Linked DNA regions of Homo sapiens: all the other regions are linked to region 4. Evidence: fine-mapped expression QTL. A gene starts in region 4. Each other region holds a variant in brackets. All regions are shown on one strand. Distances are between the middles of the regions. Region 1 has its middle 79 kb from the start of IRAK1BP1. Region 2 has its middle 49 kb from the start of PHIP. Region 3 overlaps PHIP (PHIP subunit of CUL4-Ring ligase complex). Region 4 holds the start of IRAK1BP1 (interleukin 1 receptor associated kinase 1 binding protein 1).

The links. PIP is the estimated chance that this variant, and not a neighbour inherited with it, causes the effect. A credible set is the group of variants that fine-mapping cannot tell apart.
Region 1: its variant is the best candidate, but not a certain one, in a credible set for the expression of IRAK1BP1 in whole blood (TOPMed, PIP 0.59).
Region 2: its variant is the best candidate, but not a certain one, in a credible set for the expression of IRAK1BP1 in sun-exposed skin (GTEx, PIP 0.65).
Region 3: its variant is the best candidate, but not a certain one, in a credible set for the expression of IRAK1BP1 in naive CD8 T cells (Schmiedel 2018, PIP 0.58).

What each region holds. Positions count from the first base shown.
Region 1 is chr6:78,786,209-78,791,881 of GRCh38, forward strand. No RefSeq gene overlaps it. Among named protein-coding and RNA genes, the nearest start is that of IRAK1BP1, 79 kb to the right of the region's middle. The variant G/A (reference allele first, on the strand shown) is at 2,132.
Region 2 is chr6:79,124,538-79,130,210 of GRCh38, forward strand. No RefSeq gene overlaps it. Among named protein-coding and RNA genes, the nearest start is that of PHIP, 49 kb to the left of the region's middle. The variant T/G (reference allele first, on the strand shown) is at 2,882.
Region 3 is chr6:79,017,540-79,023,212 of GRCh38, forward strand. It overlaps PHIP (PHIP subunit of CUL4-Ring ligase complex), which reads right to left. Exons shown (of 40, transcript NM_017934.7): 10 at 1,550-1,620; 11 at 1-44. All of the region lies in intron 1 of LOC124901346 (a long non-coding RNA gene), which reads left to right. Among named protein-coding and RNA genes, the nearest start is that of PHIP, 58 kb to the right of the region's middle. The variant T/A (reference allele first, on the strand shown) is at 2,631.
Region 4 is chr6:78,864,110-78,869,782 of GRCh38, forward strand. IRAK1BP1 (interleukin 1 receptor associated kinase 1 binding protein 1) reads left to right here and starts at 3,442. Exons shown (of 4, transcript NM_001010844.4): 1 at 3,442-3,782. The coding sequence starts at 3,468. LOC107986613 (a long non-coding RNA gene) reads right to left here and starts at 3,381. Exons shown (of 2, transcript XR_001744210.2): 1 at 3,279-3,381. RefSeq lists enhancers at 3,337-3,446, 3,477-3,796, 3,629-4,229.

The sequences.
Region 1 (5,673 bases), 78 kb before region 4:
TTTTGAAAAGATCAACAAAATTGATAGACCGCTAGCAAGACTACTAAAGAAGAAAAGAGAGAAGAATCAAATAGATGCAATAAAAAATGACAAAGGGGATATCACCACTGATCTCACAGAAATACAAACTACCATCAGAGAATACTGTAAACACCTCTACACAAATAAACTAGAAAATCTAGAACAACTGGATAAATTCCTCGACACATACACTCTCCAAAGACTAAACCAGGAAGAAGTTGAATCTCTGAATAGACCAATAACAGGCTCTGAAATTGAGGCAACAATTAATAGCTTACCAATCAAAAAAAGTCCAAGAACAGATAGATTGTATTTCTACATACTAGCAACAAATAATTAGAAAATGATATTTTATTATATACATATATATATATATTTTTTTTACTTTAAGTTCTGGGATACACATGCTGAGCATGCACGTTTGTTACATAGGTATACATGTTCCATGGTGATTTGCTGCACCTATTAACCCATCATCTAGGTTTCAAGCCCTGCGTGCATTAGGTGTTTGTCCTAATGCTCTCCCTCCCCTTTCCCCCCAGCCCCCTGACAGGCCCTGGTGTGTGATATTCCCCTCCCTGTGTCCATGTGTTCTCATTGTTCAACTCCCATTGATGAGTGAGAGCATGTGGTCTTTGGTTTTCTGTTCCTGTGTTAATTTGCAGAGGATGATGGTTTCCAGCTTCATCCATGTCCCTGCAAAGGACACGAACTCATTCTTTTTTATGGCTGCATAGTACTCCATTATGTATATATGACACATTTTCTTTATCCAGTCTAACATTGATAGGTATTTGGGTTGGTTCCAAGTCTTTGCTATTGTAAACAATGCTGCAATAAACATACATGTGCATGTGTCTTTATAGTAGAATGGTTTATAATCCTTTGGGTATATACCCAGTAATGGGGTTTCTGGATCAAATGGTATTTTTGCTCCTGAGTCCTTGAGGAATTGCCACACTGTCTTCCACAATGGTTGAACCAATTTACACTCCCACCAACATTGTAAAAGCGTTCCTAAGAAAATGATATTTTAAAATGCTATTTACAGTAGCCTAAAAACAATAATAAATGTAATGAAAACACTGAAAACTAAAAACCATTTCTCAAGAACATTTAAAGAAGATCTAAATAAATGAAGACAATTTAAATATATATGCTCTGGTCATGTATTTGAAGATTCAACATTATTAAACTATCAATAATTCCCCCAAATTAATCTGTATATCCAATTCAATCCTAACCAAAATCCCAAAAAAATCCATTTTAACTGTTGAACTCAGTTTACAATTTATATACAAATTCAAAGAATTTAGAATAGACAAAACAATTTTGAAAAACAACAAAGTTGTAGGATTTACACTCCCTGATTTCAAGATTTACTATAAAGCTATAGCGGTTTTTACAATGTGATCTTTGGCCAAGAATAGAGAAGTAAATCAATGGAACAAGATGAGGTCCAGCCATAAGCCCACCTATACATGGTCAATTGGTTTTCAACAAAAATACTAAGGCAATTTAAGAAAGAAAGATAATGTTAATAAATGGTCTGGAACAACTGAATCTCCATAAGAAAAAAAGAAGAATCTTGACCACTACCTCTTACCATGCTAAAAAAAAAAAGGGGGAGGCGGGTGAATATCTTCATGAGTGTGGAGTAAAGATTTGTTTACACTAGGCCAAAATATGTGTGTGTGTGTATATATATATATAAACTTTAATAAATTTTACTTCATCAAAATTAAAAACTATAACTATTCAAAAACACCATTATGAAAATGAAAAGGTGATCCACAGATTGGGAGGTAAATCTTTCCAAAACATGTATCTGACTAGTATTAAAGATATACAAAGAGTTCTGTATCAATCAGGGCTTGATTAATGAAACAGAACCACTAAGAGTCCCATACATATGTGTATGTATATATATATATATATATATATATATATATATATATATATATATATATGTATATAAACATATTTCATTATATGGATTTGATCTCATACATTTATGGGAGACTGTCTCTGTGAAACTGTTGTCTGTACATCTGATACTAGAGTCTGAGATCTGCTAATAAAGCAGTCAGGAAGAGAAATTAAATGCAAT[G/A]TGAGAGAAGCAAGAAGAAACTCACCTATAAGGATGGGCTGAAATCTCCAAGGACAGACTGTACCAATCTCTCACCAACTTCAATCAAGCTTCCAACTTCAATGATTAGGGAGATGTATTAGTTTGCTAGAGTTGCCAGAGCAACACGATAAAAACTGGATAGCTTAAAATAGAAATTTATTGTCTTGGTTCTAGAGGCTAGAAATCTCAGATGAAGACATTAGCAGGGTTGGTTCCTCCTGAGAGCTGTGAGGGAGAACCTCTTCCATTCTTCTTGTTTAGCTTCTGGTGGTTTGCTGGCAATCTTTGGCATTCCTTGGTATCTGCTACATCACCCTAATCTCTTCCTTCATCTTCACATGGCATTCTCTGTGAATGTGTGTGTCTCTGTGTTCACATTGTCCCTTCTCAAAAGGACACCACTGTATTTGGATTAGGGCCCACTCTAATGACTCATTTTAACTTGATTACCTTTGTCTCTACAAAGACTCTATCTCTAAATAAGGTTACATTCCGGGGTACTGAAGGCTAGTATCCCAACATATATTTTTGGGGAGACACAAATTCAACTGACTACAGGAGATAAGTATGTACCTGGCCCAGGATTCAGCACAATGTAAAGAGGAAGTCTGGCTGGAGGAGCTATGAACTCAGATGCCACCTCATGCTCACAGGGTGACCAGCAAATTAGCAACAGTGTGTGTGAGCTGCAACAGTGCCACCTGCCTTGCTCCAGCTTTCCATGAATAAAAAGAAGATAGTTGCTGCTTTATGTCTGCATTCTAAATCCTGCACAAATTTTCAGGCTCAAAACAACCAGAGAGGGACATCCCAGAAAAAAGTAGTTCCAGTTTAGTTAAGGTGACACAATAGCAACTTCACCACAAACTCATACAACACAATGCAGACAAAATGCAATTTTCAAATGAATAAAAGGTTTAGATATACCTTTCACAATATGAGATACATAAATGGACAAGAAACACATTTAAAGGTGTTTATTCCCATTAGTCTTCAGGAAAGTGCAAATTAAAATCATAATGACATACTACTGAATATCCCCCAAATGGCTAACGTTAAAACAAAAACCGGGGCATATCAAATGTTGATTGCAATGAGTTTTTAAGTTATCTTGAAGCACATGAAAATACTTTACCCAGCCAATAGTATATTCTATCATTATGGTAATTCATAATGATGATGTACCTTTATATTTGATTCCTTTACCAACTAAAGTGGGCATAGCCACTTTCAAGGCATAACAATGGCTCCCCAAAATGTTCACATTCTAATCTCAGAACCTATGAATATGTTAGGTTACATGGTAAAGGGAAACTAAGGTTGCAGAGGAAATTGAAGTTGTTAATCAGCTGACCTTAAAATAGAGAGATTATCTTGGATTATCCAATGGGTCCAGTGTAATCACAAGGATCATTCAAAAAAGGGGGAAGCAGAAGAGGGAGTGTCAGAGAAAAACATATAACAACAAAAGTATCATCAAAGCTACATTGCTAGCTTTGAAGATGGAGGAATGAGACCCCAAATCAGTGAATGTGAGCAGGCTCTAGAAGCTGGAAAAGACAAGGAAACAGATTTTCTCCTAGTACAACCAGAAAGTAACACAGCCTGGTGGGCACCTTGATTTTAGCCCCAAGCAACTTGTGTTGGATTTCTGACCTACAAAACCATAAGATAATAAATTCGTGTTTTAAAGTGTGTAGTAATTTGTTACATCAGCCATTGGAAGTTAACACAAGTAGATACTATTAAGATTGTTTTACAGATAAAATAAAGCAGGGAAGTCCAGCATCTGGGCTATCACCAGTTGCTCACAGGGCCCAGACAGTCTACACCTTATGTTTCTGGGCTCTCACTCCATGATTCCTTCCACAGTGCCACCCAGCTTTCTCTGGGTGTGAGCAGGATCATGTCAGCAAATGACTCAAAGAAATTATGAGCAGTGAGACTCAGACATGGAACAGGTCTTAGCTTTCTGATAAGAAAGTCACGTACATCTCCACTCTCAAAACTTCATGGATTTGAGCAGGGCACAGTGGCTCACACCTGTAATCCCAGCACTTTGGAAGGCCAAGTTAGGAGGATCACTTGAGGCCAGGAGTTGGAGACCAGCCTGGGAAACATAATTAGACCTAATCTCTGAGAAAAAAAAAATTAATTAGCTGGGGAAAGCTGGAATCATTCCCCTTGAAAACAAGCACAAGACAAGGATGACTCCTCTCACCACTCCTATTCAATATAGAATTGGAAGTCCTAGCCAGCACAACCAGGCAAGAGAGAGAGAGAAAAAGGGCATCTGAATAGGAAGAGAGAAAGTCAAACTATTCCTATTTGCAGATAACATAATCCTATTAACTAGAAAATCCCATAGTTTCAGCCCAAAAGCTTCTTGCTGATAAACAATTTCAGCAAAGTCTCAGGATATCAAAATCAGTGTACAAAAATCACTAGCATTTCTACACACAAACAACAGTCAAGCCAAGAGCCAAATCAGGAATGAACTCCCATTCACAATTGCCACAAAAAGAAGAAAATACCTAGGAATACAACTAGCTATGGAGGTGAAAGATCTCTATGAGGAGAACTATAAACCACTACTCAAAAAAATCAAACATGGCATAAACAATTGGAAAAATATTCCATGCTCATGGATAGGAAGAATCAATATTGTTAAAATAGCCATACCGCCCCAAGCAATTTATAAATTGAATGCTATTCCTATTAAACTACCAACGACATTCTTCACAGAACCAGAGAAAACGATCTTAAAATTCATATGAAACCAAAAAAGAGCCCAAATAGCCAAGGCATTCCTCAACAAAAAGGACAAAGCTGGAGGCATCACACTATCTGACTTCAAACTACTGTACCGGGCTACAGTCACAAAAGCAGCACGATACTGGTACAAAAACAGACACATAGACAAATGGAACAGAATAGAGAACCCAGAAATAAGACCATACACCAACTATTATCTGATCTTTGACAAATCTTACAAAAACAAGCAATGGGGAAAGGATTCCCTACTCAATAAATGGTGTTGGGAAAACTGGCTAGCCATAGGCAGAGGTTGAAACTGGTCCCCTTCCTAACACCTATATGAAAATTAACTCAAGATGAATTAAAGACTTAAATGTAAAACCCAAAAGTATAAAAACTCTGGAAGATAACCTAGGCAATAACATTCAGGATATAGGCACAGAGAAAGATTTCATGTCAAAGATGCCAAAACAATTGCAACAAAAACAAAAATTGACACATGGGATTTAATGAAACTAAAGAGCTTCTGAACATCAAAAGAAACTATCCACAGAGTAAACAGACAGCCTACAAAATGGGAGAAAATTTTTGCAAACCATGCATCCAAGAAAAGTCTAATATACAGCATCTATGAGGAACTTAAACAAATGTATAAGAAAGAAACAACACCATAAAAAGTAAGCAAAGGACATAAACAGACACTTTTCATAAAAAGACATACTTGTGGCCAACAACCATATGAAAAAAAGCTCAATATTACTGAT
Region 2 (5,673 bases), 260 kb after region 4:
GGATCAAGATCCTGAAGCATTTTTTCAAAGAATTGTAACAGGAGATGAAACATGACTTTACCAGTACTACCCTGAAGACAAAGCACAATCAAAGCAATGGCTACCAAGTGGTGGAAGTGGTCCAGTTGAAGCAAAAGTGGGCCAGTCAAGGACAAAGGTGATGGTGACAGTTTTTGGGATACTCAAAGCATTTTGCTTGGTGAGTTTCTGGAAGGCCAACATCTGCTTATTATGAGAGTGTTTTGGGAAATTTAGCCAACATTTTAGCAGAAAAACACCCCAGAAAATTTAACCTTTTCCACCATGACTATGTTCCTGCTCATTCCTCTCATCAAATAAAGGCAATTTTGCAAGAGTTTTGATGGGAAATCATTAGACATCCAACTTACAGTCCTGATTTGGCTCCTTCTGATTTCTTTTTGTTTCCAAATCTTAAAGAATATTTACATGGCACCCATTTTTCTTCAGCTAATAATGTAAAGAAGACTGCATTGGCATGGTTAAATTTCCAGGACCCTCAGTTCTTTAGGGATGAACTAAATAACTGGTATCATCACTTATAAAAGTGTCTAAGTTTACTTGATTGAACTTATGTTTATAATGTTTACATTTTTTATTTTTGTCTTTTAATTCCATTTTCTATGAACTTTTTGAAGCTCCCTTATACCATCAACTTGAGAATGAATGAACAGTTTGTGGCATATCCATATTATGAATGACTACTCAACAATAAAGGGGAAAAACTACTTATACTCGCATTGATGATTCTATAAATTATTATGGTTTGTGAAAGAAGTCACATACAAAAGACTACATATTCTATTATTCCACTATATGAAATTCTAGAAAAAGCCACACTATAGTGTCAGAAACCCAATCACTGTTTTCCAGAGGGTGGAGAGAAAAAATTAACTGCAAAGGGAGTATACAGTAACTTTTCATGGTGATGGGAAGTTCCATGCCATGAATGTGATTGTGGTTACACTCTATGCCCAATTGTCCAAATTCAGTGAAGTATGCACTTAAGCTTGATGAATTTTATTTATGTAAATTATACTATAATAAAACTCACAAAAATGTTTAACAGAGAGAAAACAAACAGTGGGAGAAAAAATCCTTTCAGTACCACTACATTTCTCATAGTAAAGTTGGCTAAGTCATATCAGTCATATGTGTGTGGGCAAGAGGAGGGTTGTCCCAAGGCAATGGGTGTTGAACAGAGGAAATAGGGGACTTTCTGAAATGTCCATAGAGGAGCGACAAAAGGAGTAACCTGGTTCAGGGAGTAGAGGAAGGGTAACTAAGGAACAGCTGAGGGTGTGGGGCCATTTCGAACAAAACTCTTTCATTATTTACATGGTCCTTCATGATCTGGGCCTTGCCTGTGTCTCCAACTCACTTGCCTACCCTCTCTCTCAGTCTGTTTTTACTCTGACTTCTTGTTTAGCTCTTTCTTAAGTTTCTTTGTGCACTCCTCATAGCTCTATGCTGGGCCCTGCTTTTTTTTTTTTTTTTTTTTTCCACTTACACCCTTTGTTCTCTTTAGGTCAATTATCCACTTCCATGCTTTCAATCATTATACCAATAATGACAAAACTAGGAAAAGCCTCAGAGATTATTTCTTTTCTACATAATGTCAAAGTGTATTCTTAGGCAATGAGACTAGCTACTTGAATTGGGTTTGTGAATGGAGACAGGAAAAGAAAGCCTTTATGAAGTTAGGAAAAAGTAGGCAAACTTGAGAGAGAGGAGCAACATTCGGTACTTCAAACTTATTATTCTTCTAGACTTAGTAACACTTCTTTGAAGCACGTAACACACTTGAAATCATTTCTTTAATATCTGTCTTCTGGGCTTACCTGTAATATTTTTGTGGGTCTGTCTTCTTTACATCTGAAATCTCCAAAACCAAGCAAGATGCTTGGCACTTAGTAGTTATTTGATAAATACTTGTTGCCTAACTAACTACTCTACTAATTACATCCAAGCCAAGCAATGTGCAATAAATTATTTCATGTCCCTAGTCTTTTACTGTTTTCTTTCCTTGGAATGCTCAACCCTCCTGATTTCTTCTTACCTACTCTCCAACCCAACTCCAAAAGGAAAATTCCTACTTAAATGTCTCCTTTAGAAAACTTCCTGACTTACCTAAAGCAGAGATTTGTGCCAACACCATCCTTCTGTATCCTTCCCTTCTAGCTAGTTCTTCCTTGAAATGTTTCCATGTCTGTTTTTTCTTCTTAGTTAATTCTGATTCTTCCACACTTGCCATAATAGTTGGCACACAGCAGAACTTTGATCAATATTTGTTAAATGAATGATTTATTTTTCCACCAGTCATGTGATATATGCAGAGTAGCATTATACCTAGGCAATTATTAGGGTTTGTGGGTAGAATGAGCCCCAAATCCCTAATGTGGAAACTGCTTAAAACAGAAAGTAAATCAACACCTACTAAGATGGATGTCAAATCTCAAATCCTTGTAGAAAGCTGTGTTGGAACTTCTAACCACTGCTAAAATTAGATTCAAATCAATAGTGAAGCAACCTAATTTTTATCAAGAAATTTTCCATAAGGAAGATAATAAAGTCATGTCTACAATTCTTTTTGAATTAGAGGCTAGATATATTAGCTTGGAAATAACTAGATGCAAAGTCATGAAGAGATTATGCAAAGTAACTTTTCATATGGCCTAATTTAATCTTGTGTGAAGCAAGTGCCTTTGTTAATTCAACTGATTTTTTTAAGGATTATAGTTTTTTTGTTACTTACTTCTCAGAATTAGAATTAAAATGTAGTTACCGGGAATCATCTAACCATGACCAAAAAAAAAAAAAAGAATTTTATAAGCATGCAGGACAAATAATATGTTGCTGGCAT[T/G]GTTTACAAGTGTGTTAGATCCATAAATAATGGTTTACTAAAAGTTTAAGGACTTGAAGAGAAATATACAGATGACTCTACTTCTGCAACTTTTACCAACATTCTAGAGAAATGAATGTGTAGCTCAAAATTGAGTCCAAGGTCAATGTATTTAGTCTTTGGCAATGACACTGAGATTTTAAAGCAGAGGGTTTCACTGATGAAAATACAGTTCCAATTTTTTTAAAGGAGCATCTGTAATTTAAAAACACAAACCTCACCTCTTCCTTCCCAGTTATATGTAAGAAGCCCTTTTACAAATAACTGAAAATCATTTTATGTTGAAAAAAGAAGAGCACCCCACCCCCATGCTAACACCACCACCAGCATGCCCATAAGCACAGTTGCCAGCAGGGGCCTCCCCACCCCTCTAAGCAGTCTTACTTCTGCTGCTGCTGTAAACACCTACATGGAGGAAGGCATCCCAGCACTCTCTACCATCCTACTGTAGCCAATGAGTGTGCACCCCTCCATGTTGACACTGCCACTGCTGCTGCTGCTGGCATGTGCAAACAAGGACAGAGCCCACTGCCACCACATTTTTGTTGGCACTACCCATCAGAGTTTAGGGACCAGTAGAGTGGCAGCATCTCAACTCCCCCAGCACAGTGGGTTCCTAGCCTTGAGGAGCCAGAGAACAAAGTCAGGACCCGAAACAAGTCCCTAAGAGTTACAGCCTGCAGTCCAGGAGCTGGGAGCTGAGACTTGGTACCCACTAAAATTTTCCAGAAATGAAGCCAGTGGACTGAATCCATCTTATACCACAATCAAACCCTCAAGCTCATCAAACAGAATAAAAGAAAAAAAAATCCACCCAAAGGACAGCAACTTTAACGACTGAAGAAACACTAGCCCACAAAGACGAGAAAGAACCAGTGCAAGAACTCTGACAACTCAAAAAGCCAAAGTGTCTTCTTTCTCCAAACAACCGCACTCACTACCTCTCCAGCAAGGGTTCTGAACTGAACTGAGATAGCTGAAATGACAGAAATAGAATTTGGAATATGAATAAGAATGAAGGTCATTGAGATGCAGGAGTATGTTGAATCCCAATCCAAAGAAGCTAAGGATCACAATAAAATGATACAAGAGCTGACAGATAAATAACCAGTATAGAAAAGAAAGTAATCAACCTAACAAAGCTGAAAAACATTCTACAATTATTTAGGAATGCAATTGTAAGCATTAATGGGAGAATACGCCAAGCAAAAGAAAGAATTTCAGAGCGTGAAGACTGGCTTTCTGAAATAAGACAGACAAGAATAGAGAAAAAGAAGGAAAATGAATAAACAAAATTTCCAAGAAATATGGGATTATGTGAGGATATCAAATTTGTGACTCACTGGTGTTCTTGAAAGAGATGGGGAGAATGAAACCAACTTGGAAAATGTACTTCAGGATACCATGCATGAGAACCTCCCTAACCTAGCTAGCAAGGCCAACATTCAAATTCAGGAAATGCAGAGAACCCCAGCAAGATACTTCACAAGAAGATCATCCCTAAGACACATAATCATGAAATTCTCCAAGGTCCAAAGGAAAGAAAAAATGTTAAAGGCAGCTAGAGAGAAAGGTCAGGACACCTACAAAGGGAAGCTCATCAGACTAATAGCAGACCTCTTAGCAGAAAACCTACAAGCCAGAAGCAATTAGGGGTCAATATTCAACATTCTTTTTATTTTTATTTTATTTTTTTAAAGATTTCCATGGGTTATTGGGCAACAGGCAGTGTTTGGTTACATGAGTAAGTTCTTTAGTGGTGATTTGTGAGATTTTGGTGCACCCGTCACCTGAGCAGTATACATGTCACCCAATTTGTAGTCTTTTATCCCTCAGTCCCTTCCCATGCTTTCCCCCGAGTCCCCAAAGTCCATTGTGTCATTCTTATGCCTTTGCATCCTGATAGCTTAGCTCCCACTTATGAGTAAGAAGATACGATATTTGGTTTTCTATTCCTGAGGTACTTTACTTACCATAATAGTTTCCAATCTCATCCAGGTCATTAATTCACTCCTTTTTATGGCTGAGTAGTATTTTATTTTATATATATATATATATATATATATATATATATATATATATATATATATATATATATCTATCTATCTCACAGTTTCTTTATCCACTTATTGACTGATGGGCATTTGGGTTGGTTCCACATTTTTGTGATTGCAAATTATGCTGCTATAAACATGTGTGTGCAAGTATCTTTTTCATATAATGACTTCTTTTCCTCTGGGCGGATACCCAGTAATGGGATTGCTGGATCAAATGGTAGTTCTACTTTTAGCTCTTTAAGGAATCTTCACACTGTTTTCCATAGTGGTTGTACTAGTTTACATTCCCACCAGCAGTGTAGAAGTGTTCCCTGTGGACTGCATCCACATCAACATCTATTATTTCTTTATTTTTTTATTATGGCCATTCTTGCAGGAATAAGGTGGTATCGCATTGTGGTTTTGACTTGCATTTCCCTGATCATTAGTGATGCTGAGCATTTTTTCATATGTTTTTTGGCCATTAATATATCTTCTTTCAAGAAATGTCTATTCATGTCCTTAGTCCACTTTTTAATGGGATTGTTTGCTTTTTTTCTTGCTAATTTGTTTGAACTTGTTATAGATTCTGGATATATTAGTCCTTTGTTGGATGTATAGATTGTGAAGATTTTCTCCCACTCTGTGGGTTGTGTGTTTTCTCTGCTAACTGTTCCTTTTGCCGTGCAAAGCTCTTTAGTTTAATTAAGTCACAGC
Region 3 (5,673 bases), 150 kb after region 4:
CCGAATAATATGATCTGTGCTTCCCGTCGCCAGAAACATTCCACCTATGAAGAATAACAGCAATTGTTAAGAAGTAAAACATAACTTCAAAATCTCTGAAAATTAGATAATAAAATGTAAGCAAAATTACAGTATATACTGAATTAATATTTTACTCCAAAACCATTCACATTTATCCTAAATATATAACACATCTAACTGGAATTTAAGAAAGAAGTTTATGAATATATCTGACTAGAATGAATTTTTCAATATTTATAGAAGTAAAGCTTTGCTCAAAAAATAATTTCACTAAGTGAATATATAACCATACCATGTTAAAATTATCAGTCACCTTCACTAGAAAATATTTCTCTCGCAATTCTGCTGAAATTTTTCTGTTGTCTCATTTCCCATGTGTCAAAATCTTATCAAACTTTTAAGGCCCAACTCCCTCAGTAACTTTTCTTTACAAACTTTGCAATTAAATGAGGCTGCTCTCTTCAGAACTCCCCTAAGACTTTGTTTTGTAGCATATTCATTCTACCTTGCATTACAGTTATTTGTATATGCAGTGTACTCAAGAGTAACACTCTTCCACAGTATTGAAAACAATACCTGTATATAATAAAATATTTAAGTACTTTTGCTAAATGATCTACCCACTAACCCCTTAAAAAAATCAAATTGTCCTTGAAAAAGGAGTAAAAATTCAGAGTATTCTGGATGCATGTATGATGCCTATATTTGTATGACTACTACAAGGAATACTGAATCCATGGCAGTGGCACTGAACATCTAGAAGTTAGAAAATGAACATGTTTGGATATTAGTATGGCAAAGACAGACTCACTTCATTAGTTTGCTATCCCTTATCTCAGGTAATACTCCTATCCACAATTATAAAATGAGCGGAAAAAGTAAAACTGAAAATAAAGGTAGGAGGAACAGGTATTAGACACTATTTGGATCTACTCATGTTTCATTTAATTTTCTTATCAATTTACTACAAATAACCAGATTTTTTTTATAACTTGTTTAAAAATACCCTAACATCCATTCAAAATGCTGCTGCATAAACACAAATCTGAATTGGAATCTTAGCACTGCTATACAATCACTTTTTAAAGTGCAAATAAGAACAATATGTAGCGAATTAACTGATAAAGATGTACAAATATGAATCAAATTTATTTTACTTAACTATAGAATACCTTCAAAATCCATGAAAACATAAACCAGATTTAAAATACCATTCTTACAATGAAACAACTATTTAAACATTCATTCTTTAACAGGGTCGATTTTGAAACTATTTATTCTCTCCTACTAGAACATTATAGTCTTCTTAAAGAAAAACAGTCATGTGATTATATAAACTAAACTCTTGCATAAATGAAATATTTCTAAGTTAGTTTATAATAATTCTCAGTTACTTATTAGCTCTGGCATATGTATAAGAACATGATTGATAATACAACAGTAAATATTTTCCTAAATATTACACACTCCACTATAAGGCTTCTAAATGAACAACTTTAAGTCGAAAATTAGAATGAGGGAAACTTACCAGCACTAAAAGAAGAACAGATCATTTGAACTCCAGGCCGAGGGCGCTCTGTAAATTTTGCAGGTCTTGGGCTGTAATACAAAAAATAAAGAATTAAAAATATCCTAAAGGAACCAGTAGCAGCAGAAATAATCTGTTTCAAAAAATAATCCCAGAAGGACAAAATTAAGAAGCAACAGATGGCTCCCTTCCTAAAAACAACTTAGAAATCATTATGTGTCATAAATCAGAAGATCTTGTAGAAATTCTAGATATAGATTTTGTAGGAGCTCCTTATTACACAACAATACGTACATGGAACAATTCCAAATTCACTGTCACACCAGACATGCAGTTACTAGTTACACTTACTTCTAATCAAATTTAACATGTTCTCAGTTTTTCATATAGAATAGCAACGTACAAACATATAAGGAACTAAGCTATTCGCAAACATGAATACATTAGCAAAATAGGTGCTGTCTGTGCCTTATGTATACCATCAATAACTGAACTTTTTCAGTATTTTACATTAATTAAGCTTTTCCCTTCTTTGACCTACTAATGTGATAAAACATGTCTTTTAAGACCCCAAAAAGTAGGGATATTACATTTAACCTAGTGAAAATCTGAAGATACTTTGACTCTTACGTCAACTACAATGAATGCTCATTCAAAATAGCAGTCTACAGAAAACAGGTTACACACAGCTGTATTTACATTAATTGCCTAACTGTATTACAGATTACATATTTTATATCAATACTACTGATATTAAATGTTTAATGTTACAGTCAACCAATTAGAGAAAATGAAGATTTTTATCATGACACCAGCTCTAATACATTTAACAATGTGTATGTAATGTTCCAATATACTGATTATATTTGAAGCCCTACTTACTGTACATTTTGGCATAGTTCTTCTACACTATTTGATGAAATGCAAAAATAATTAGAGCTTAAGCCTATATAACTTTCACAATATATAACAAATTTAGAGCAGTTTTAGTTTTGTGATCATTTACTGGAAAAAAGTATATACATAAAATATTTCTGAGCTATAGGTTGGTGCAAAAATAATTGCGGTTTTGCCTTTTTTT[T/A]AAAAAAAAGCTTTTTACCATTAAAATAATGGCAAAAACTGCAATTATTTTTGCACCAACCTAATATATATTCTGAGCAAAGAGAATTATCTTTTTTACTGATACAGAATGCAACAAAATGTTAAGAATTTAAAAAATAAGTTTGTAAATAGTTTTACATTAGTATTTACAGCAAATTCTATTAATATTCACAGGCTCTAATGTAACAGATGAGCAGAACAAATCTCATTTAGAGAGACAGATATTAGAACATTCTTAAAACCTAAACATTTATTCAGAGCAAAATTAACTGTAATTTAAGTAAATTAATCTGAATTATGAAGGCAACTAAATGCATTGCTTTCATTACTACCTTATGGATTATAGCTCTAGATTTTTTTTAATTTTTGGTACATCTGCTCACATAAGTTCCAAGCAACCATTTACCTGAAACTCATTACAAAAATATGCAAATAGTCCTATAAACTACCATTTTTAAAAGGTTTTTATTTTAGAAAGGAAATCAGTATATTGAAGGGATATCTGCACTCCCATGTTCGCTACAACACTGTTCACAATAGCGAAGATTTGTGGGTTTTTTGGTTTTTGAGACGGAGTCTCGTTCTGTGGCCCAGGCTAGAGTGCAATGGCACAATCTCAGCTCACTGCAACCTCTGCCTCCCAGGTTCAAGTGATTCTCCTGCCTCAACTTAAAATTTTATAAGTTAAATTACAGCCAAATGACAAAAGCAATGAAATTATATTTTAAAGTATTAAATTAGTGTGACAATGTAAGTAATTATGTGTTTGTTTACTTGTTTAGGTTTAAAGCAAATCAGTAAGGTTAGTTTAATGGAAAACACACACACATAGATGCTTTGGAACCTGATGGACCATCATTTGAGTCTTTGTCATTGCTAATGTTACTTATTTTTAGACACTTCTCTTTACACACTGGTGAATTATTTTGATTAACCAATAAATTTAATAAAGCACTACAAGTTACTTTTTTATTGGAGACAGAGGCTCACTCTGTCACCCAGGGTGAAATGCAGTGACGCTATCTCAGCTCACTGCAACCTCTGCCTCCCAGGTTCAAGTGATTCTCATGCCTCAGCCTCCCAAGTAGCTGGGATTACAGGTGTGCACCACCATGCCCGGCTAATTCTTATATTTTTAGTAGAGACAGGAGTTTTACCATGTTGGCCAGGCTGGTCTCAAACTCCTGACCTCAGGTCATCTGCCTGCCTTGGCCTCCCAAAGTGCTGGGATCACAGGCGTGAGCCAACACGCCCCGCCACAATAGTGAAGATTTGGAAGGAACCACAGTGTCCAACAACAGATGAACGGATAAAGAAAATGTGGTACTTATACACAATGGAGTACTATTCAGCCATAAAAAAAGAATGAAATCCTGTCATTTCTAACAACACAGATGGAACTGGAGGTTATTATGCTAAGTGAAATAAGGCAGGCACAGAAAGACAAACATCACATGTTCTCACTTATTTTGGGGATCTAAAAATCAAAACAGTTGAATTCATGAGATAGTAGAGGATGGCTATTATAGGCTGGGAAAGGTAGTGGGAGGAAGAGGAGGGAGGTGGGGATGGTTAATGAGTACAAAACTAATAGAAAGAATGAATAAGGCCTAGTATTTGATAGCACAACAGGGTAACTATAATCAATAGTAGTTATACATTTTTAAATAACTAAAGGAGTGTAATTGGATAATTTGTAATACAAAGGATAAATGCTTAAAGGGATGGAGACCCCCTTTAACACCATGTGATTATTATGCATTGCATGTCTGTATCAAAAGATCTCATGTACCCCATAAATATATACACCTACTACATACCCACAAAAACTAAAATTAAAAAATAAAAAGATTTTATATTTTTAAAGGGAAAAAACAAGTAGCTACCCATAATTTGTTTTTAGATGCATTATTTGAGGAAACATTTTTAAAAAGGGCCTTGGGCCGAGTTCAGTTTCTAGGTCTATCACTTATCAAGAGTGCGACCTTAGGCCAAGTTAACATTTCTGTACCTCAGTATCCTCATCTGTAAAACAGGGGTAAAACGGAACCTATTTCAGAGTTGCTGGGAGAATTAAATGAGTGTGATACATGTAAAGTGCTTAGTACAATGTCCAATATGCTCAATAAATATTAGTATTTTTATTAGGTTCAACAAGTTCTAGCCAATCCTTCAATGACTAACTGCCACTTAGTTTGGCACAGTGGTTAAAAGGGGTTTCTGACATTATACCTCTAGTAGTATTTAAATCCTGGCTCCAGTACCACCTGCTAACAATGTAACCTGCTGTGCCCCAGGTTTTTCCCTTATCTGCCCCAGAGATAATAACTGTACCTTTCTCAAAGGGTTGTTATAGGGATTGAGATAACAAATGTGAAATGCTTAGTACTAGCTTGGCAGACTAAGCGCCTAATAATCACAAATAAAAATTTGTAATCATCATATTATATGCATATTTTAGGATTCCTAGTCTCTTTACACCTAAGTCTAAATATACTTGGACAGCTTCCTCCTACCCAGAGACCTCTGGAGCTAGCTTATGGTTCACTTAGCCACTTAGACTACCCATTTAAGAAACAGCATCTTTGCTCGTGAGTTGGTAATACACACATACAAGTGAATTTATAAAGATATTTGAGTTCCCAAAGTTGAATTGATTCATTCAACTAATGCAGATGCAGGATTTCTAAAGTCATTTCCCCCAGCAGAATATACAAAAGCATTATAGCTAAATACAATTTTTGCCTTTGATTATTAATTAAATCCTATGTGACATAAACAGTATAAATCTATATCCTGCCAAATTTTTGGCAGTTTTCAACTATGTGTAAACACATAAAGAAAATAGGTGTTCCAAGGCTTATATCTAAAGAGCAATGGATTGTTCTTGTTTTTGTGTTTTTAATAAGACAGGATCTTGGCCCTGTCGCAGAGGCTACAGTACAGTGGTGAGATCACAGCTCACTTCAGCCTTTAACTCCTGGGCTCAAGCAAGCCTCTCACCTCAGACCCCTGAGTAGCTG
Region 4 (5,673 bases):
TTTTAAGATAACATAAAACTTGGTCAAGCTACTTATGCAAAAAAAAGGGGGAGGGGAATTTTTATAAGGATACAGGAATATTTTAGAGAACTCCAGGGCAGGAATGAAACCAGGCCTAAGAAAAAATTCTTAAAAAAGAGACTGGAATTGCATCTGGACTATTTTTCCATCTCACCTCTGATCCTCTTGGAAAGTATCATTTTCTCTTTCTCTCTCTTTCTCCCCACCCCATCTCTACACTTTTTCTATTTCTCTAATAGAAAAATGGCCAATCTATATCTCCCAAGGTTTTACATAAATATATATATGAGTGTATGTCACAGCCCTGTCACCTAAGAGACTAAATTTTTAAAATTTGGTGTAAATATAGATTCTCATGTGAAAAATTCCAACGGGTTCAACTGGAATTAGGTACCTATTCTTAGTACAATCAACTTGGTAGAGTCACCTTATTCAAAACAGTTGCTAGGGGCTCAGCCTTGACTCTGAGAGAGAACTGGGCTACTATGAGCTGAACAAATAGCTCTATGCTCTTCATTCATTCTCCCAATCATTCCAGCTGAAAACTTCATAAGTCAGTTTAGGCTTATCCTTCTCTTTCATATACTATTAATTTATAGTTCTGTCACAAAGAATTAATTCATTCTTCTTTCAAAATCCAGTATTATCTATTCCTTCTCCATTCTCACGGGCTTTGTTATTTGCCAAAATGATAGTTCAAAAACAGACATTACACTGTAGTTAAATTTGCATTTCTTAAACTACTGGTGAGGATAAACTATTTTTTTTTTCATCCTATAGACTACTAACATTTCTGCTTTCTTGGTCTGTATTGTGGACTTGTGTTCCCCAAAATTCGTATGTTGGAGTGCTCTTCAATGTGACTGTGTTTGGAACAGGGCTTTTAAGAAGGTAATTAAGGTTAAATGGAAGTCACAAAGGTGAGGCTCTATGAAGAGACATCGGGGTAATGTGCACAGAGGCAAGGCTATGTGAGGATGCTGCAAGAAAGTAGCCGTCTGCAAGCCAACCAGAAAGGCCTTGGGGGAAACCAAAACTGCTGACACCTTAATCTTGGACTTCTAGGCCCCAGAACTGTGAGAAAATAAATTTGTGCTGTTTAAGCTCCAAAGTCTTTGAAGCCGAAAGACTTTTGTTATGGCAATAGCAATCTAATACAGTTTGCCTCAGTGTTCATTATTTTTCTTTTGACACGTTTGTTTCTTCTAGCAACAGTTCTCTAAGCATTAAGACTCTTAGCCCTTTATACATAATAAACATTAACAAACATTTTTCCCCATTTATTTGCCCCCCCACCTTTGTTTTTATTTTGCTTTATATAACTGATTTTTTTTAGTATAGTCCAATTTTTCAAACTTTTCCTTCATGGTTGCTGCACATGAAATTATGATTAAGGCCAGCCTTCCCATCCCCCAGAATATTTATATTTACATATAGGTTCTTCCAATTATTTTTCTTTTTGGTCTCATCTGAATTATTTTCAATGTATGATATAAGATACAAATTCTTTAAAAATATAGCTTACAATGGGCCAGGCACCGTGGCTCATGCCTGTAATCCCAGCACTTCGGGAGGCCGAGGTGGACGGATCACGAGGTCAGGAGATCGAGACCATCCTGGCTAACACGGTGAAACCCCATCTCTACTAAAAATACAAAAAAATTAGCCGGGCGTGGTGGCGGGCACATGTAGTCCCAGCTACTCGGGAGCTGAGGCAGGAGAATGGCGTGAACCCGGGAGGCGGAGCTTGCAGTGAGCCCAGATCGCACCACTGCACTCCAGCCAGAATGACAGAGCGAGACTCCGCCTCAAAAAAAAAAAAATATATATATATATAAAATATACTATAGCTATATAGCTATAGTATATTATATATATAGCTTACAATTATCCCTGTACCATGTAATCATTTTCCACTGATATGAAATCTTTTATCGTATACTAAATACTTACACTTTAACTCCTGTTGCTTTTTGTTTATGACATTCACTCATTCAATAATTTATTTTGGAGGCTATATTCTTCCGCATTTATCGTAAGGGAAAAAGAATTTTTCACCAAGTTTAAGAAACATTATTTTGGGTGTCTTAAATAATAAAAGACTATGACGGAAAGTTCTTAACGTTAGTTTTTAAATTAAAATTGTTTTCAGCTAACAATAAACAAGATGGATATACACAAAATTATGTTAATCTAGTGATGAGCCTAATTAAAGGAGGGGGGTACCATTGATTTAGTTGAATTATACTAATCGAAAAGAACAGAAAAAACGATGGTGAAGAAACTACAAGAGGACTGTCAGCTTTTCAGGGTCCTTTTAAAAGAACAGTTCTTGTCCTTCTAGAACTAGTTATTCAAAATTCTTTTTTCCCCCCTCGATTCTCTTGATAAAATTCAGATAGTAAAGACGTATAAGTCAGTGGGGCTATTTTTACAAAGATCATTGCTTAGTGCTAGGAAGAGAATCCAGAAGACGGGAAGTTGAGGGTTGTGTTCTAAAAGTTCTCTGAAGAAAAGGGTACAGAGAAGCTCCAAGTTGTGCAGGCCCAGCAAACTCCATGTTGGACGTGCTTTGCTACCACCTAAATCTCTTCTGTCGGAATTCAAGGCCCGAACCATTCCAGGGATTTTAGAAAAAAATGGGGAGACACAAAAATGATGCCAAAGCCATAGCTATCATTACAAACATCCATTATGTTCACTCTGCTTTCCATATGCAACGCACTCTACATACAATGGGCGCCTTATAAGCACATAGCAAATGTGAAAAATATTATCAACATTGCTTTGATAATATTAATATATTATATATATTAGAATATATTATATATTAGAATATATTATATATATTAGAATATATTATATATTACTAATATAAAAAATATTATCAACCCTGCTTTAGAGAAGATGATACTGAGATATGAAGAATCATAAACTGTCCAAGATCACAGGGGCAAAAAGTTCACCTCAACTGAAACCTCTCACGAACCACAAAAATGTGGCCGAGGGAGCCTCAAAAAGCAGTACCCCAAGCGGGGACGGTAAAGTCAGAAAAGACAAGGCTGGGGGTAATCACAGAGAAATCTAAAAACCCGCTCGGCCTCGCTACTCTTCTCCTTCCTCTGAGGTGCAGAGGCGCGGTGGGACGACAAGGAGTTGCGAGAAAGGGCAGAGCTCACTGAGGAGGCAACAGAGAAAGTCCGCTAACAATTTTTGAAGGCCGTAAGTTAAACATGTTAAAAACTGTAGCTACTCACTCAGCCGACATCTAGTAAAAAAGATGCGGCAAGATCAACAAGGCATATAGCTTGCGCCCGCCAGAAGTTCCGCGGCCTCCACACCCATCCCGGCATACTTTGCGCCGTGCACAGGCAAGCCCTGGTGCGCATTGGCCCCTTCGGCCGCCGTCGGCCGGTAGTTACTATGGAAACCCAGCTGCCATCGCTATGTCTCTGCAAAAGACCCCTCCGACCCGAGTGTTCGTGGAACTGGTTCCCTGGGCTGACCGGAGCCGGGAGAACAACCTGGCCTCAGGGAGAGAGACGCTACCGGGCTTACGCCACCCCCTCTCCTCAACACAAGCCCAAACTGCTACCCGCGAGGTGCAAGTAAGCGGCACCTCAGAAGTGTCTGCGGGCCCTGACCGGGCGCAGGTGGTGGTGCGAGTGAGCAGCACCAAGGAGGCGGCAGCCGAGGCCAAAAAGAGCGTTTGTCGCCGTCTAGATTACATCACGCAGAGCCTCCAGCAGCAGGGCGTGCAGGTGAGATCTCCGCGGGGGAGGAAATAAGAGCCGGAAGACACAAAAGGGTTGGCAGATGGTCGGGCCCCACAGGCCCCCCTAGCGGGAAGGGAGATGTGGAGGGTCTGGAGCGTTTAGGACGCGTTTGTTGCAAAGGTACTCCGGGACGCCAGGACCTGGCAGAGTGAATATTTGACCCATTCTTCTCCTAGACGAAGGTAATTATTGGCCTCAGGCAAATTAAAAATAAAAGAATGCAAATTGGGTAGGTTTTTATCTGGGGATATTTGCTTCAGTGATTTTGTTTTTAAATTTAAAGTGATGAAATGTTAAAACTTGAAATGTTAGTTGTAAATACTTGCCCACGTGGAGTGCTGGACACTAAATATTTTGTTTTGTTTTGTTTTTATTCCGCACCATGGAATTGGCAAGTGAAGAGCACGACCTGCTTCCTTCCGATCATGTAAAACTTTGCATGGAATGGTTCTTGAGTATGTTCCGCAAACAGTAACGTTGGGAAGTGGGGAAGAAGTTGCGTCCATTTTCATTTTATAATGATTTTCATTTTATAGTGATTCCCCCAAAATTTCTTCGGCCTTCTTAGGTTTAACTTAAAAGAAAAAATCAAGCCAGTATTGTGGATACCACATATACGAAATACTTCTACTTACTTAACGGAGATGTCCATGAGACAAATCACTAAACAAATCTTACCTTAAGCCTACTCCTAAGGCAAGAAAAAAAATGAAGCCATCATTTAATCCACACAATAGCACTGTTAGGCATGTTTTAATATCCCTGTTTTCCAAATTTAAAGAGGTTAAACAATGCTCTGAACTTTAGGTAGAGCAATATTTGAACTCATGTATTCCTGAAACCAGAATGTAAGTTGCTTCCAATTCTGCCGATAATTAGAATGAAAGAAAATTAGAAATCATAGGGATCAACGATTTCAGTTTTCTCATTTTATAGAGTAGGACCCCAAAGGCCAGAGATGTAACTTATCCAGGATGACATTGAGTTGGTAAAAGTGCAGGCATTGTTACTTCCAGTCTATTGCAAGAAATTCCATACCCCGAAAAAGCAAGTCCTTATTTTTAACAAGAAAAGATATTTGAATTGCATTTATAATACAAACATACAAGTTATTACAAAGTCATTTGGACAAGATTTCTTCAAATGATTTTACAATTTAGAAAAATACAGATAATTATAAATAATGTGAGTAAAGTGGGTTTAATATGTAGAAAAATAGTTTTAAAAAACTGCTACTAGTGCTGTAGTCGTTTGAATAATGTTAACAAGTTTTTAAGTTATTTACATAAAATAAAAAGAGCTCACAGGTCTCTAATATATAAAACAACATAAGCTGGGCATGGTGGCTCATGCCTGTAATGCCAACACTTTGGGAGGCCAAGGCAGGTGGATCACTTGAGGCCAGGAGTTCGAGACCAGCCTGGCCAACATGGCAAAACCCAATCTCTAGTAAAAATACAAAAATTAGGTGGGCATGGTGGCACAGTCCTGTAATCCCAGCTACTAGGGTGACTGAGGCAGGAAAATCTCTTGAATCCGGGAGGCGAAGGTTTCAGTGAGCCGAGATGGTGCCACTGCACTCCAGCTTGGGTGACAGAGACTCTGTCTCAAATAAGTAGTAAGTAAATAAATTAACTAAGTCCAACTTAGAGTAATCAAGATTCAGTGTTCAAGGCAAGACATAAGAAAGACAGTAACCTCCCAATTATCTCTGCTAATGGATGAAAGCAGTCAGGTAGATAATTTGTTCAGGAGATAATACAAAATATCATTTATATTTTCAGAATGAATTATGGGTCTTCACAAAGTCTGTATTCATTTTAAACTTTAGAATTCTGAGCTGTAAGATTTATAAACATCACTTCCCTGCTTAAAG